3 linked regions of the Homo sapiens genome follow. The protein of the gene in region 3 binds, or shares a complex with, the protein of the main gene of each other region. Each region holds a gene or a part of one and is shown on either strand. Other genes may lie near its edges.

Region 1 (2,763 bases), on a different chromosome or scaffold from region 3:
ATAGGTTAATGTTTCAAGTAGCAGTATGTTTTTTGTGCTCTTAACTATTATTTTAGGTGATATAACTATTTTCCACTGTTAGCCTGTGGACTGTTAACTGTACATTCAAAAGGTAGTCCTGATGTATAGCAAAACATGAAAAGCACTGCATTACTGTGATAAAAGTGGTTCTGTTTTATGGGGAATAGTTGTTTGTTAATGACAGTGCAGTATTGACAAATTTATCTTCATGATGCCTCTTTTTCCATGGTTTTATTGTAATGAATCTTACTTTCTTGTTCTAGGCTGCTGAAAATATGACAAGCTGACTTTCTGGAGAAATTCTGATGAGATATGTCAAGCTCTGCAAGAGGGTTTGAAGATTGCATTGTAGTTGAGAATGTACAATGAAATTACTGCATGCAGCAGTGTAGAAAAATTTTACTTTTTAAAAGAATTATAAAACCATAGCTTTATAAATCAGTGGAAAGTGGCTTACAGAGAGAACTATCAGATGTGTTTACATCACATCTTATTCACTTTTTTTAACAGCTCTAATGCTTTGGCATTGCTATGTTCATATTTATGTATTCCTTATTTATAGCTCTGATAGCTTTAATTTTCTAAGCAGTCTGTCTATCAGATGTGCACATCTGCTGTGCCAGGTTGAAGTATAGTGGAACCCATCAGTAGTAATGTGTAGTAGTTATGACTTGTTGACATTTCCATTATAAACTTTAATTTTGAATTGTTTATGCATTATAACTGTGGATTTATATTGTATTGGGCTGAAAGTTGACAGGATTTCAGCCACCACTTGTGAATTTTTATTTAGATTCATTATGTATATCAGAATCTTGTTTTTTGAAATAAGAGCATGGAAAACATTTCTTGTAATCTACTCTTGAACAAAGAATATTTAGTTTTTCAAACAGTTTGTTGGGCAGCTAATAGTGTGAACCAGGTCATTTTTGTATTGAGTAAAAAAATCAAACTTTGAGAAACTTGGATTTTAAAAGTAATGACAATGCTTAGGTTAGTATTATTTGTAATTTGAATCATTTACATCTAATGAGAATGTTAGTTGAGAATGTTTTCTTAAAGTTTTATATCCTATAAATAACGGAATAAAAAAATTTGTAAAATGAAACAACAAACATGCAAAATTCCTATTTACTTTTATTACATAAAAGTAATTTTAGTGCTTACCTAATAAATCTTGAATGGTTATTTAATAAATTATTAGATGGGTGATGTGTTTCAAAAGATACTTGCTATTTTTTGAAGAAATAAGGATTTCCAGTCATTAAACAAAACTAAACAATCTTATTAGATGGGTGATGTGTTTCAAAGGATACTTGCTATTTTTTGAAGAAATAAGGATTTCCAGTCATTAAACAAAACTAAACAATCAAATGTTCTATATTAGGAATCTCAAGTATGGCTTTTTTTAAAAAACCTTTTTAACATCTTGATGTCAAGGATTATAAGTATGGCTTTTCAGAATTGTTTTGTTTGTCATTATTCTTGCCTTTAAAATTTTAACTCATCAAAGTGAAGATTAGAAATAAATTTTAGAAAATGTAGAATAGTATTGATTCTGTTCCTGTAATAGAATCTCAGTGGAGTTTTTTTGCAAAACTAATATGGATTTCATCTGATTTTATTATTTCTTAAATTTTAGATTTTATTGAGTACCATTTATATGATTGTACAAGCATTCACTCTTTACTAGCATTTTTTGTTTTTCAGACAAGCTGAAGTGGTTTTATTAAGATTTGGTAATATTTAAATAGCAACCTTCTCTGCCTTTTTTTTTTTTTAATATAGAATTTTGACCATTTTGACTTTTTAAATGCCTGGCATCTTTACCAACCAAGTAAACTGGAAGATCTGTTACTGGTAGAACAGGTTGAGGAGACAGTAGGAATTTGTAAAAAGTCATTTGATTTATAATCAACACTACAAATACTATGTGTTATTTATAAAATCATAAAGAACACTTTTGTCAGACTCCAAAATTTGTATATACTTCCAGGCCATAAGAGTTGATAGTATTATTTATGACTTTGTAGATTAAGTTATTTATGTATGAAACAAAGCAGGAAAATATATTGAGAAGGGATCGTGTTTACAGAGGACTTCTTTAAAGTGTCACATTTTTAAAATGTAAACATATTTTTAATGCATACTTAAGTAATATTTAAGAAACTAAACAAAATAATGATACAATTGCAGTGTTGTGCTTGTTGTCAATGACAAAAATAAAACCATTTTGGTGGTATTGGCCTGTACTTTTGTTTTAATATATGCTTTTGTTAATTCAACTTGTGTTTCTATAGGACAAAAGATACAGAACATAAAATTTACCATTTTAACCTTTTTTTTTTTTTTTTTTTGAGATGGAGTCTCACTCTGTCACCCAGGCTGGAGTGCATTGGCATGATCTTGGCTCAATGCAGCCTCCGCCTCCTGGGTTCAAATGATTCTCCTGCCTCAGCCTCCCGAGTAGCTGGGATTACAGGCACCTGCCACCATACCTGGCTAATTTTTTGTATTTTTAGTAGAGGCGGGGCTTCACCATGTTGGCCAGGCTGGTCTCAAACTCCTGACCTCAGATGATCTGCCTGCCTCAACCTCCCAAAGTGCTGGGATTATAGGCATGAGCTACAATGCCCTGCCCTTTTTAACCATTTTTAAGTTTCATAGTTCAGTGACATTCAGAATATTCTTATTGTATTGTAACTATCACTATTGTCCATCTCTTGAACTTTCTTATCCCAA
Region 2 (7,638 bases), on a different chromosome or scaffold from region 3:
TGAAGCTCATTAGTCTGTTAATACACTACCTAGAGTGTTTCATTTTTAACATCCAAAAACTAACCCATTTAAAAACTGCTTTATTTTTTTTCCTCTACCCTAAATCATTAATTCCTAACTTGGTTATAGTCTGAAAGACTTTCCAGAACATATACAAATTCAGCTATGATACAGTTAAACAAATTAGGGATTGTCATGTGGTAATTTTAAATCAAGAGTCTTTTTAAATGTCACCCATATCACCTAATAAAGTTTAGTTATTATTAAATTAGTAAAATAAGTTACATACAATGGACTTAAGAGTAACATCGAGATTTACTGAAGTGGAATCTAAGCATTCTTCTTACCACAGGCTCTATGGATAGAGATCCCTGGTCAAATAAGTGTGGGCAATGTTGCATACTGCATCTCTACAGAGTTTCAATGTACATTAGTATTAAAGTTATACTATAGGACTCTGAGAGGTCCCATAGTATAGCCTCTCTTTTAATACAGCATTTATCAAATTTATCTGCTCATGGAATATCTTTTTTACCTAACACCTATTATTCTACAGAACTAGTGTTAGACTATTTTATGGAATCAAAAATATTTAAATGTCTCAGACCTTTCTATTTGGTCTACTATTACTAAACTAGTTGACTTTAATAGCTTTATTTTCAATTTTAATCCCACATCCAAGAAAAGCTTTGGATTTTAAGTTTCTAATTGTTACTATTTACTGTATGTTTCCCTTTCAGAAACAGCACTAGCAGCCATGATACAACCCTCTTATGATGACAGTGCTGCTCAAATGTCTTCTGAGAGGAAGTTCTGTTGCTATACCAAACAACCGTACTTATCTCCTGAGGCAGTTACAGGAAGCACAGACAACTGACAAATGTCAACCAAGTACACCTTTTCACAGGCCATGCAATACAAGTAACTTTTGTTCACTAACATCAGATGACAGATTAAATAGAAATATGGCTAATAGAATTATTTTCCTTACTGGATAATTAAGATCACACAAAATAATGTTTGTTAAAGTGCCTTATAACTCTAATCCTCATTAAAAACAAGTAATAATAAATATTAAAAAGTAATTTAATTTCACAGAGAACTTGCCAGTACTTCTAATGACTAATCATAATATTGTATTTAGTTTTTGCTTTTTGACAAGCACCATGTTGGTTGCTTTCACATTAATTATTTAACTGCTCTTATTTCCCATTAATCCCCAGTTTATTACTTTCATTACAGTCTCTGACTTGCTTATCTAATGGTATAAAAGCCTTCTGGTGACTTATGAAATGCTGTTGCAAAGCTGAATTAAATTCAATTAAATATTTATTAGCATGATCTTTCTTCCTTGTTTCTTAAACTTATTTCAACCTGCTTTTAGAGAGGGTTTGTGGCTGGAGGTCAGTTTGCTGAAAAATTGGCATCTAGAAAACAGTTTTCCATCTTTAACTGATGGTTCTAGCATGCAGAACTCAACCCATCCAAAGAATAAGCTGGGTCAGGAGAAGTTCACTATGGGACATGTTAAAATTGTTGCCTACAGCTATGTGAAGATGGCCAGTAGGCAGTAGTCTATAAGGGTATGAATCATAAAGAAGGAGATTAGGGATATAGATAGATTTGGAAGTCATTTATATAGATAATTACTGAAGTCATGAGAGTAGAAAAGAAACAGTGGTGGAAAGTGTTGATATTTAAAAGATAAATAAGAAGGAGAAGAGGCTGAAAAAGAAAGAGAGAAGATACAGCTACAGCAGGGCTGTCCAACAGAATTTTCTTCAATGATTGAAATAGCTACTCGCCATATTTGCCTACCGACCACTTGAAGTTTGGCAAGCGTCATTGAGAAACTGAATTTTTAATTTTTAAAAAATATTAATTTAAATTCAAATAGCCACATGTAATTACCGCATTGGACAGTGAAAGGCTACAGAGTAGACTGAAAATAAAAGTGATGTCATGGAAGTCATCAAAAGAACGTATCTCAAAAGGCAGGGAATGGTCAACAGTATTAAATATTAGAGAGGACAAATCAGCTAGGACTAAAAAGTGACTACTGTATTTAGCAATTTAGGGGTTGAATTGTGTCCCCCAAATCTTTATTTGTTGAAGTACTAACCCCCCACTACCTCAGAATGAGACTTCATTTGGAAACAGGATCACTGCAGATGTAATTAGTTAAGATGAAATCATACAGGAGTAGACTGGGTTCCTTTTTTCAATATGACTGCTGTCTTTATAAAAAGGGTAAATTTAGACACAGAAACATGCACATAGGGAGAATGCCATGTGAATATGAAGGCGGAGATAAGGGTGGTACGTCTACAAGACAAGGAGCACCAAAGACTGCCAGCAAGCCACTGGAAGCTAGGAGAGTGTCTCTAATGCCTTCCGAAGGAGCACAGCCTTGTTGACATTTTCATCTTGGACTTCTAGCCTCCAGAACTGAGAGAATACATTTTGTTGTTCAAGCCATGCAGTTTGTGGTACTTTGTTACAGCAACCCCAGCAAACTAATACAACATGAAAGAGATCTTTGATACACCCTAGTTGCTTTGTCTATCTACTTAAATCTTTAAAATGTGTATTCTTATTTAAATCGTAATCTTCTAGTGTATAGGGAATATAGCTGTTAAAAACTTTGCATTAACATTAAATGTTTAAGAGTAGTCACCTAATAAATTCTAACTAATGATGTTAAATTTCACTTGTACATCTAAAGTACTGAAATATAAACACTGCACTAAAAAATAAACATAAAGGGATCTGAAATAACAAATGATTCCCAAGGGGGTCCATGAGATCTAGTTATCTGGCTCAAACGTTCCTTCACATCGTCATAAATGTCATGTTTTAAAAACAATTATAAAAAAGCCACTTACCTTTGGTTTCTAAATTTTTAGTAGTCATTTTTTCACCTTAACCACTGAAAATGCACTCCAAGACTTCTGCTGAACAACCTAGAAATGTATGCATATGAAATAATTTTAAAAATATCATATAAACACATAGAGTACCTCCAATTTAAAAGTTATGATATTTTAATTGCTTCTGTATTTAGTACGCATGCATTTAGAAAGAGAAATGTCCCTTATATCCCATTCTCACAGAAGGCATTGTTATGTCTACTAAAAGTCTCAAAAAAAAAAATTAGGGGTGGTTTACTTCTAAATACTCCGTTTCACCATCCTCACCAATACACTCTAAATTGTCAGAAGTATGTCCTGAATTTTAGCCAAGCAAAGGGAATGAAGTTACTGTGGTGGTTTTGTCATCCATATGACAAGAGGAATTTTAAAGTAATTACTTTCTTAGGAGACATACCGACACAATTTGTATACACACACACACATATCAAAAAGGAGCTTCTGTTTAGATGTTTAACAAACGACAAAAAATATTACTCAAGATAACATAATTTATACTTTTTTGGTAATAAAAAGTTAAAATTAAAATAGTGTAGCTCCAAAAGTAAAAAGAGAAACATATCGAGCCCATGCTTTCAGAAATGTATACATTGTCTTACAGTACAGACTCAGATTTACCAGAGAACATATAAGAAGGTGATGCTACTGCAATGATATAAATATGACAAACTGTACACTAGATGACAACTGGTTTCACTACAAAAAAAGATCGTTCTCAGTACTAGATACAACTCAGTTCAATTAGTGAACCCGACGACTAACTTTCTTAACAGTCACAAACTTTTCTACACTTACACTCTACTGCTCCGAAAAGAGGTATCCAAAAAACCCTTCGTAAGAGTAACGATCCCTGAAACTGCCCTTGATAGCTGCTCTGCGAAACGTACAGGCACAGCGAGTGCCTGCTGGCAAATGCCAAATGAAGCGGAGGGGGTGAAGAAGTAAGTAGGGGGAGTGAGCAGGTATGAAAGCGATAGGCCGGGAAGCGACAAGCCTGTCAACTTTGCTGTCCGGGGAAGTCGAAACCTAAGTTTCATCCCTGTCTGAAAAAGTCTTCCCGGAACAATCTTTCCCTAAATCCAAAGCTACTGGCCACCGAGCTCCAGCCAGACCTCCGTCCCTTTCCAACATCCTTAGTTATACCTGCTTGTCCTCGGATTTACCTCTAAGATTCTTATTCTCCGTATTTCAGGGGGCTTCACTTGATAGGCTCTTCGGATCGGTATCACCAGGTTAACTTCTCACAGACCTCTTCCATTCGGAAGCCGACCCGCCCAGTCCCTCCGCATATCCAGCAGCTCTCTCACTCCTAACCACTTCCGATTACTCAGGGTTTCGCTTCCGGAATACGTTTCCAAAAGAGCAGGGTAAACAAATTCTGCAGTGCGTATAAACTCAAGTAACACAGAACACACACTGTAAGGCCTCCGTAAGTGAAAAGCGGACAGATTTCTACTTTAAAATAAAATACCGTACAGCAACTTTTGGAGCCCAAGCCGCATATTCACTTAAACTTCCGGGCCAGCTGTTAAACAAACGGAAGTAAAACTGCCGGAAACAGAATAATGGCGTCTCGTAGCCCCAGGCGACAGCGTGGAGGGGCGGGTCTGTCGATTGGATGAACGCAGCTGAGATTACTCCCAGCCACTAAGGACGAAGAGGTGGGGCGGTGGCGTCCCACGCCTCGTGCGACAGTGGGCGGGGCTTTGTTGCCTGAGTAACCGTATGATGGTGGTGGTGGTGGTGTCTTCCTGTCTCAACGATACCTATTTTCTAGTGCTGAGATCCTGAGACAATGGTGAGTGCCAGGGGATGCCAGAAGAACGGCTCTGGGGTCCTACTTACTTAGCTTTCCAAGTCTTCGGGCGGATGGGCACTTAAAGTTGTCCGGTCCTCCCGACCTTCTCCCCGTTATCTCTTTCCCCCTTCCCACGGGCTGTTCCTGCAGTCTCCTCGCTCTCCGTATTTCTTACAGCACCCTGAATTCCACTAATGTTACTAAGTCTCTAGAGTAATGAAACAGAAAATTTAGGGTAAGGCATCGAGTCTAATAACCTGTTTTGAACAAACATTATGTGTTTGCATTGTTCATCATGGCATTTTTCATGTTCACAGATTCACATTAACGCGCTTTATTAAGAGTATGGGGTGGTGTGTATGTGACTGTCTCAACACTGATCTGAATCTCCCTAGATCTTGGAGTCTTTTTGCTTTTCTGAGTGGCAGAGCACTGCCCCACGCCCCCACGAGGGCCATTAACAGGTGTATGTTGGATCAGCGCTCTTCTATCCAGTTGGTTACCTTCTAGGTCTGTGCTTGCTTTTCTTTTCTCTTTTCTTTTCTTTCTTCTTCTTTTTTTTTTAAACAGAAATTTCTCCTGGGATTGCTTGGAGAGCTTCTGGAATTCACTGTTTGGGCTTCACCCCTGGAAATTCTGAATGAAAGGAATGGAGCTCGGTATTTGCATTTTAAATAAGCCTATAGGTTATTTTAATTCACCCCTATGTTTGAGAGGGTTCTAGTTAATTCACTTAACTACCATATCTTTTAAGCACTTATGGATAACGGACTGGAGGATAGAAAGATCTTTAGATAGTTATAGCTATGAATTTAGAAACAGAGCCCTCACCCACCACCCCTTGTTTCTTCATACTACTCAGCAATCCTTTTGGTTACCCCAGTTTTCCCCTGACCCATTCTCTGTGAAGACATTTTCAAACCTTCCCTTTACAAACCCTGTCTTTTGCCCTCTTCATTTCTCCTTTCTAAACATGATGGAGTATAACAGGCCATTTCTTCAACCTCATGCCCCCAACCTACACATTGCTCTATATTTTTGCCGAGCCTTTAGTCTTGTATTTCTAGTGTAGAGAAAGGGATATTAAAGGATAATCCATCCATCTTTGCTCTTGATCTCATTTGCTTCCATCTGTTACATTTCGCTTCCAGTTGTTTTTTTCTTTCCTGTGCGTTCAGCCTTTTCCTCTCCAGTTTCTTCTCTTCAGTGCTCAAGTCACACATCTTATGAAAATTAAATAAAGCAAAACCATGTCCTCCATCCTGTGTTTATCCAGTTATTTCCTAGTCCTCCTATCTATCAGTAAACTTCTTGAAAGGATATTATTTTTACTTATATCAAACAGACAAAAGTCTTCTGTCTGGCTTCTTTAATGGCTTCAAGAAAGTTGTTCTTGCTTAAGTTTCTAATGGCCTTTTAAATACCAAATACAGTAATTACTTCTCAAAATTTACATTACTTAGTCTCTTTGTGACAACTGAGGTTCATAGTCATTAATTCCTTTTACTGGCTGTGCCTGGTTTTTGAATGTCATTCTTTGGAATTAACTCCTTGATTACTTTCATTTCTTAGTCTAGACATTTTCCTTGGGTGATTTTGTCCACTCACATGGATTCTACTAACACCTTTGATTTTGCTTCTAAATTTCAATTTTCCTCTCAGATCTACTAATGCCTAACTCAGTTGCTTCCCGGACACATCTGTCTCAAATGTCCTTCAAACTTAATATGACCAAAACTGAACTTGCTATCTTTCCTCCTGGTTTCTCCTATTTTCACCAAGTTAAATAATGCTACTACTATATTATAACCTAAACTAGAAATCAGAGTTATCCTACATTCCTCCCTCTTCTATTTCTCCCATATTCAGTTGTTCACTAGATCAAATTTTAGTTTGTCATCTCCTCATTTCGTGATTATTTTAATAGTGACTTTTACAGTCTGGTCTGGAAATTCTCCAATCCATTATTTTCTCTGCCACAAGAAGGAATTTTTAAAAACCCAACCTGTTGATTTACTCACCTCCTTAAAACTCTAGATTCCCTATTTCCTACAGTAAAATGTCTAGAATGGCACACAAGTTCCTCCATGAACAAGCACTTTTCTGTCTAGCTTTTGCCTTTCCCTTTCCATACTTAAAAAAAAAAAATTCTCTTGCCTTTTAGCTACTTGCTTTTCATTGAACATACCAAGCAACTTCAAACTGGTAGTATGCCTCCTCTTTCTACTTTGCACTTGCAATTCCTTCTACACAGAATACTTGCACCCTCTTGTTGCTTGCCAAACTTATTTATTCTCCTATTACAGGCCAACGTGTTCTTCTTGCCCACTTCCCAGAAAGGCCAAACATTGAGAATGCAGGAGTTGCAGCAGAGAAAGAGTTTAATGGAGGCAAGGCAGTTGAGTGGAAGGATGGGAAATATTTCTAAAATCCGCCTCCCTGACAGCTTGGAAGTTGTGGTTTTCAAGGATAATTTTGTGGGCAGGTTGGTAGGGAATGGGCGCTGCTGATTGGTTGGGGATGAATTTATAGGTGTTTCCAAACTGTCTTCCTGTGCTGAGTCAGTTGTCTAGGTGAGAGTCATAGGACTAGTAGAGTCAGTTTCTTGGTATGAGGCATGTATCTGGGTGGCATCAGGAGGTTTGCCAGAATGCAGAAGCCTGGAAAATATCTCAAGACCAATCTTAGGTTTTACAATAGTGATGTTATCTAAAGGAGCAATTGGTGAAGTTACAAATCTTGTGACCTCTGGCTACATGACTTCTGAATAGTAAGAAATTATAGAAAAGCAAGGAACAGTAGCTGGTTATTGCTTACCTATGCCTATATTTTAGCAGATTTTAGGTCCCTCCCATAGTCCTAACCTTGCGGCCTTCTATTAGTCTTACAAGGCTGTTTTAGTCCCTAGAG
Region 3 (7,139 bases):
CTGCCATGGACACGGGTGTGGATGATGCTGCAGTGGATAGGGTTGTGGATGATGTTCCCATGGACAGGGGTGTGGATACTGCTGTGGACAGGGGTGTGGCTGATGCTGCCGTGGACAGGGGGTGGATGCTGCCGTGGATAGGGGTGTGGATGATGCTGCGGTGGACCTGGGTGTGGATGCTGCCATGGACGGGAGTGTGGGCGATGCTGCCGTGGACCTGGGTGTGGATGCTGCTGTGGACAGGGGTGTGGATGATGCTGCCATGGGTGTGTGTGGGTGATGCTGCCAGGGACAGGGGTGTGGGTGATGCTGTCGTGGACAGGGGGTGTGGATGATGCTGCTGTGGACCTGGATGTGGATGCTGCTGTGGACGGGGGTGTGGGTGCTGGTACCATGGGTGGGTGTGGGTGATGCTGCCGTGGACAGGGGGTGTGGATGATGCTGCTGTGGACCTGGGTGTAGATGCTGCTGTGGACGGGGGTGTGGGTGATGCTGCCGTGCACAGGGGGTGTGGATGATGCTGCTGTGGATAGGGGTGTGGATGATGCTGCCGTGGACGGGGGTGTGGGCGATGCTGCCGTGGACCTGGGTGTGGATGATGCTGCTGTGGAACTGGGTGTGGATGCTGCTGTGGACAGGGGTGTGGATGCTGCTGCTGTGGACGGGGGTGTGGGCGATGCTGCTGTGGACCTGGATGTGGATGATGCTGCCGTGGACTTGGGTGTGGATGCTGCTGTGGACAGGGGTGTGGATGATGCTGCCGTGGACCTGGGTGTGGATGCTGCTGTGGACAGGGGTGTGGATGCTGCTGTGGACAGGGGTGTGGATGATGCTGCCATGGGTGGGTGTGGGTGATGCTGCCATGGACAGGGGTGTGGGTGATGCTTCCGTGGACAGAGGGTGTGGATGATGCTGCTGTGGACCTGGGTGTAGATGCTGCTGTGGACGGGCGTGTGGATGATGCTGCCGTGGATGGGTGTGGGTGATGCTGCTGTGGATAGGGGTGTGGATGATGATGCTGTGGACAGGGGGTGTGGATGCTGCCATGGATGGGGTATGGATGATGCTGCCATGGACAGGGGGTGTGGATGATGCTGCAGTGGACCTGGATGTGGATGCTGCTGTGGACAGGGGTGTGGATGATGCTGCCATGAACAGGGATGTGGATGCTGCCATGGACCTGGGTGTGGATGCTGCCATGGACAGGGTGTAGATGCTGTTGTGTACATGGGTGTACAAATCTTGTTTTGTTTCTAACAGAAGAATACTTTATGAGTGAATCACCATCTTGAGGGCCACTGGCGTGGCCTGGGGTGCTCTTCCAGGGCTGGGCCAGTCGGATACCCCCGGCCATGCCCAGGACCCCAGGAAGGTGCCCTGGAACACTTTCCACATGAGTTGTCCTGATAGAATCGATCGTGCTGGTATTCACAGCAGCAGCATCCACAAAAGGCTGGGTGGTGAGCTGACATTCATACCTGGCTATGTTTCTTAGAGTTTATTGTTTTGAATCACTTCCATTCTTCTGTTCATGCCCATTCCCGAGAGAAAGCACCCTGGTGCTGAGGTGCAGGTCACCACGTCTGCTCATGGCCTCTCTTCTGCACCCCTCGCAGCCCCCCTGGCCACAGAGAGGAGCCTTACCTGACGGAGGCGGGAAGGGACGCTTTCGACAAGTTCTGCAGGCTCCACCAAGGGGAGCTCCAGCTGCTTGCTGGGGGCGTCCTACAGGCCCCGCAGCCCGTGCTGGTGAAGGAGTGCGAGCTGGTGAAAGACGTGCTGAACGTCTTGATTGGGGTCGTGTCTGCCACGTTTTCGCTCTGCCAGGTGAGAACTGCTCACTCCCCGCCACAGTGGTGTGGGGCTGGCCTGCCCTCCACCACGCAGTGCCCAGCCCTTTATGGGGCAGAACAAGCCCCAGTGCAGGGAGTGGGGAGTGGCAGGGAAGGCCAGCTCCCAGGGCCACCAGTGATGACAGCCAGCATCATCCCATTTCGGTTCTAAAAAGTGTTAATTTATTAATGTCCTTTTAAAAAACTGCAGAGAAATAACATGTTTATTGCTGTCAGCAAAGCGATAGAAAATGTTCCTCCCCGCATTTCCATTTCCGTCCTGAAGTGCCAGGCGCCTTCCGAGCCTTCCCACCGCTCGGGAGGAGCATCTGCCTGCCGAGAGCGTCCCGAGACTGGGGCCTGCGCTGCTCTTCTCACTGGATGCGGTGTCATCCGGGATGGGGCCGGGCCTTACTGGTTCTGGCACCAGCTGCAGTTTAGCCAGCCCTCTTGCTGGGCACTGGAGAAGTGAATGGATATATTCAGAAAAATGAAGTCTTGCTCTGCAGCTTTTTCATTTAAGTGCTCATCCCCTTCCTTTGTCTTAAATGTTCTTTTATGGTGGCCATTCTTAGACTTCAGAATGGACTAGAAGCACAGCCAGTGACTGCCCCAGAAAAGTGCTCACCAGCAAGCTCCAGCTGCTGCCGGCGCTGAGGGCGCCTGTTCTCAACACCGTGCTCACAGCTCATCTTGTCTGTTGTGGGGATAGCCTTATTGTGTGGAACCAACCCTGACTCTCTTTTTTTTTTTTGAGACAGGGTCTCTCTCTTGCCCAGGCTGGAGTGCAGTGGCACCATCACAGCTCACAGTAGCCTCGACCTCCTGGGCTGAATCTCAATCCTCCCACCTTAGCCTCCATGTAGCTGGGACTACAGGCACGTGCCACCACACTCAGCTCATTTTTTTCTTTTCTTTTTCTTTTTCTTTTTCTTTTTTTTTTTTGAGACAGAGTCTCGCTCTGTTGCCCATTCTGGAGTGTAATGGCACGGTCTCGGCTCACTGCAAACTCTGCCTCCCGGGTTCAAGCAATTCTCCTGCCTCAGCCTCCCGAGTAGCTGGGATTACAGGTGCATGTCACTACGGCTGGCTAATTTTTGTATTTTTAGTAGAGACGGGGTTTCACCATGTTGCTCAGGCTGGTCTCTTGACTCCTGACCTGAGGTGATTTGCCCACCTCAGCCTCCCAAAGTGCTAGGATTACAGGCATGAGCCACCACGCCCGGCCCACCCAGCTAATTTTTAAAATGCCTGAAGAGATGGGGTCTTGCCGTGTTGCCCAGGCTGGTGTTGAACTCCTGGGCTCAAGTGATCTGCCTGCCTCAGCCTCCCAAAGTCCTGGGATTGCAAGTGTGAGCCGCCACGCCCGGCCCCTACTTTTCATTTCTGATTTTAGTAACTTGATTTTTTTCTCTTGTTTTCATAGTCATCTTTTCTTTTTTTTTTTTTTTGAGACGGAGTCTCGCTCTGTGGCCCAGGCTGGAGGGCAGTGGCGCGATCTCGGCTCACTCCAAGCTCCGCCTCCCGGGTTCACACCATTCTCCTGCCTCAGCCTCCCTGAGTAGCTGGGACTACAGGCACCCGCCACCGCGCCCGTCTAATTTTTTGTATTTTTAGTAGAGACGGGGTTTCACCATGTTAGCCAGGATGGTCTTGATCTCCTGACATTGTGATCCGCCCGTCTCGGCCTCCCAAAGTGCTGGGATTACAGGCGTGAGCCATCGTGCCTGGCCCTAGTCATCTTTTTTCTTAATTATTCTAGCTAAGACTTGTCAATTTTGTTGATCTTTTCAAAGAGCCAGCTTTTTGTTTGGTTCTCTCTATTGTTTTTCTATTTTGTATTTTTTTTTTCTTTTTGAGACGGATTCTCACTCTGTCGCCCAGGCTGGAGTGCAGTGGTGTGATCTCAGCTCACTGCAGCCTCCGCCTCCTGGGTTCAAGCGATTCTCCTGCCTCAGCCTCCCAAGTAGCTGGGACTACAGGCATGGACTACCACGCCTGGCTAATTTTTGTATTTTTAGTAGAGATGGGGTTTCACCATGTTGACCAGGCTGGTCTCAAACTCCTGACCTCAAGTGATTTCACCCACCTTGGCCTCCCAAAGTGTTGGTGTTACAGGTGTGAGCCACTGTGCTTGGCCTACTCTGTATTTATTTCTGCTCTAATTATTTTTTGTTTCCTTCTGCTAGTTTTGGGTTTAACTGCTTTTTTTTTTTTTTTTTTTTTTTTGAGATAGAGTCTCGCTCTGTTGCCCAGGCTGGAGTGCAATGGCGTGATCTCAGCTCACTGCAACCTCTTCCTCCTGGGTTTAAGCAATTCTCCTGCCTCAGCCTCCTGAGTAGCTGGGATTATAGGCGTGCACTACCTCGCCCAGCTAATTTTTGTTTTTATTAGAGATGGGTTTTCACCATGTTGGTGAGGCTGGTCTCAAACCCCTGACCTCAAGTGATCCGCTTGCTTCGGCCTCCCAAAGTGCTGGGATTACAGATGTGAGCCACTGCGTCCAGCCTGTTTTTCTTTTCTTTCTTTTTTTTTTTTTTTGGAGACAGGATCACCCAGGCTGGAGTGCAATGGCTCAAACATGACTCACTGCAGCCTCAACTTCCTAGGCTCAAATTGATCCTCCTGCCTCAGCCTCCCGAGTAGCTGGGACCAACAGGCATGCACCACCACGGCTGGCTAATTTTTAATTTTTTTTTTTTTTTGAGACGGAGTCTTGCTCTGTCTCCCAGGCTGGAGTGCAAAGGCGTGATCTCAGCTCACTGCAACCTCTGCCTCCCGTATTCAACAATTCTCCTGCCTCAGCCTCCTGCGTAGCTGGGACTACAGGTGCACGCCACCATGCCTGGCTAATTTTTGTATTTTTAGTAGAGACGGGGCTTTGCCATGTTGGCCAGGCTTGTCATGAACTCCTGACCTGAAGTGATCCACCTGCCTTGGCCTCCTGAAGTGCTGGGATTACAGGCGTGAGCCACCATGCCTGGCCTAACTTTTAAAATTTTTTTAGAGATGGGGGTCTTGCTATGTTGCCCAGGCTGGTCTCAGACTTCTGGGCTCAAGTGATCCTCCTGCCTCAGCCTCCCAAAGTTCTGGGATTATAGGTGTGAGCCACTGTGCTTGGCCTAACAGCTCTTTTTAAAATATCTCTTTAGGGTATACACGGTGCTGTTGTGGTTTGGTATCTTGTTCCTTTGTATTGCGGGATATTTTTTTTCCTTTCTAACGTGGGTATTTGCGGCTGTAACCTCCCTTCTGGCTTCTGCTACACCCCATTCGTTTTGGTTGTCATGAGCCCTCTATTGGGGGTCTCCACTCTCTGGTTATAAACATACTGTGGAGAATGTCCTGTGGCGAGTCTTTGTGCATCTTCCATCATTTCTCTAATTCATCCCGAAGAGTCAAATGAGCGGGTCTCACGGCCGTCATGTTTTATAGCTTCTGCCCCAGGAGGCTGTCTGTGTACTTGTGTCCTGTGGAAGGTGTTCTGTTTTTTTCTACCCTTTTCTACACTTGGCATTTTAAACATGTATTTTTCAGTGTGGTCAGTGAGGATTTGTGCCTCGGTTTGGTCCCTCGGTGTGGGAGTTCTGGGTATGCCTTCTGGGCATTTGCTTTTGGGTCCTGGAGGCACTCTAGGTGGCGTGGGGTTGGGTGCAAGGGTGGAGGGAGACGGCACCTTACTGGGGGTCTGGGTGCCTGGCCTCTGTGACCAGTGTCCTCTGCCCCTGTGCAGCCGGCCCAGGCCTTTGTGGTGAAGCGGGGCGTCCACGTGTCAGGAGCGTCTCCCGAGAGCATCAGCAGCCTGCTCTCGGAAGTGGCCGAGTATGGGACCTGCTACACGCGCCTGAGTCATTTCTCTCTGCAGCCCGTCCTGGACTCTTTGTACAGCAAGGGCCTCGTGTTCCAGGTATGGCCTTTGCCTCATGGTTGTCACACACCTTTGTGAGAACGGTGCACACGACCTGGAAGAGAGAATCTCAGAGGTCCTTCTGCAGGACCAGAGAGTCTAAACCTTTTCTTTCCTTGCTAACATCTGAAACCCGATAGTGGCTCTTGAGGGATGGGTCAGTGAGGATGTTTTACCTCACTAGAAACTTGGGGCAGATGTGTGTGGGCCCTGGGCTGTGTGGGCCCTGGGGTGTGTAGGAGGCAGGTGCAGCCAGCATAAGGGGTGCGCAGGGCAGGAAAGGCGTGAGTGGGGCTCTTGCTGCCTGCTCCCCAGTGGGCCCGGCACATTGTGGATGACTGACAGCGCAGGGCCCTCCTGTTGGGTGAATTTACATTGCTGGGAGTTCTGAGCCAAGTCTGGCTCCGGAAGCTGCTGTTTGGTGAGTCTTGAAGCTGGCTCATGTGCTGGGAAGAGGCCCATGGGACAGGGGCTGCACCTTGAGTGGGAGAGAATAGGCAGGTGGATGATGGGGCATTTGGGTTTGGGGGATTGAGAGGAGGGTGTTGGGGAAGGTGGGCAGAGAGCCCTGGAGGAGCCAGGCAGCGCAGCCTCCTTTGACTGTTGCTGCTGCAGCAGGGGCTGTCGGGTGGGGTGATGTGGTGAGGTGTAGGTTTTAGATGGGCTGTGGAGGTGGGCATGGTGGGAGCTGCACGGGGCGGGGAGAGCTTCTAGGCAGAGGCTCAGCCCCGGGGGACTTGAGAGCTAGAGATGGTGGAGAAGGGGTCAGAGCAGGGGACGCTGAGAAGGGCTGGACTGTGGTTCTTGTTCATCTGGCAGGCATAGCCAGGCGGCTCCTGGGGTGGGTGGACTGAGATTGGTCCAGGGTGCCCCTGTCTTAGTGTGACCTGCAGGGCCTGCTGCTGTGGCGTTGCCCAGGATGCTGGTGCCACTGAGACAGCTGTGGTCGGAGCAGCTGCAGCCCTCACAGCACTAGTGTCTGTGCACAGAGCACGGCCGCCATTTCCCCCCCAGCCCCTTTGCCATGCCCCTGGGGCAGCTGGGCTCAGATGAGAGGAAGGGTTGGTGGTGGGCGCCCCTGGGGCAGCTGGGCTCAGATGAGAGGAAGGGTTGGTGGTGGGCGCCCCTGGGGCAGCTGGGCTCAGATGAGAGGAAGGGTTGGTGGTGGGCCACAGCTTCTGGCTTCTTGTGGATGGGCCGCATTTCCACCTGGCCCGGTGGCGGGGTGTGGCTCACAGAGGCCCATTGCTTGGAAATGGAGCCCAGAGCTGAGGCAAGAAACAAAGCGCTGTTCCCAGCACTGGTGCCCCTCAGGCCCTGGGCACGGCTGCGTCCATGTGCCTGGCCGCCCTCCTCCCAGCCTCTTTGCCCACAGGCCTTCACCAGTGGCCTGAGGAGGT

The links. Proteins that work in one complex are often made in the same cells at the same time.
Region 1: the proteins of TUBGCP6 (region 3) and MZT1 are in contact, whole or in part, in a crystal structure (PDB 6M33), measured with the Homo sapiens proteins. Residues at the interface, in NP_065194.3 of Homo sapiens: Met1, Ala2, Ile4, Leu7, Phe8, Asp10, Leu11, Cys12, Ala14, Leu15, Pro17, Ala33, Leu37, Val40, Ala41, Ala44, Leu45, Asn48, Ile70, Leu73, Lys85, Arg88, Leu89, Leu92, Val93, Glu95, Leu96, Leu104, Leu105, Ser109; in NP_001065243.1 of Homo sapiens: Asn17, Ala20, Val21, Thr24, Val27, Leu28, Glu30, Ile31, Ser32, Ile34, Leu35, Asn36, Thr37, Leu39, Glu42, Thr43, Leu44, Ile46, Cys47, Arg49, Leu50, Cys51, Glu52, Gln53, Ile55, Asn56, Pro57, Glu58, Ala59, Leu60.
Region 2: TUBGCP6 (region 3) and NME7 share a complex: the UniProt entries of both Homo sapiens proteins name them as parts of the gamma-tubulin ring complex.

Annotation. Positions count from the first base shown.
Region 1 is NC_000013.11:72,707,867-72,710,629, reverse strand, and holds the end of MZT1 (mitotic-spindle organizing protein 1), read left to right. Parts: intron 1-284; coding exon 285-308; 3' UTR 309-2,263; downstream 2,264-2,763. UniProt on the Homo sapiens protein: Required for the recruitment and the assembly of the gamma-tubulin ring complex (gTuRC) at the centrosome.
Region 2 is NC_000001.11:169,364,798-169,372,435, reverse strand, and holds the start of NME7 (nucleoside diphosphate kinase homolog 7), read left to right. Parts: upstream 1-4,638; 5' UTR 4,639-4,725; coding exon 4,726-4,728; intron 4,729-7,638. Other genes in the region: BLZF1 (golgin-45), read right to left, coding at 2,886-2,913. UniProt on the Homo sapiens protein: Possesses an intrinsic kinase activity. Displays 3'-5' exonuclease activity with a preference for single-stranded DNA. Does not seem to have nucleoside diphosphate kinase activity.
Region 3 is NC_000022.11:50,228,004-50,235,142, reverse strand, and holds part of TUBGCP6 (gamma-tubulin complex component 6), read left to right. Parts: intron 1-1,616; coding exon 1,617-1,827; intron 1,828-5,565; coding exon 5,566-5,739; intron 5,740-7,114; coding exon 7,115-7,139. UniProt on the Homo sapiens protein: Component of the gamma-tubulin ring complex (gTuRC) which mediates microtubule nucleation.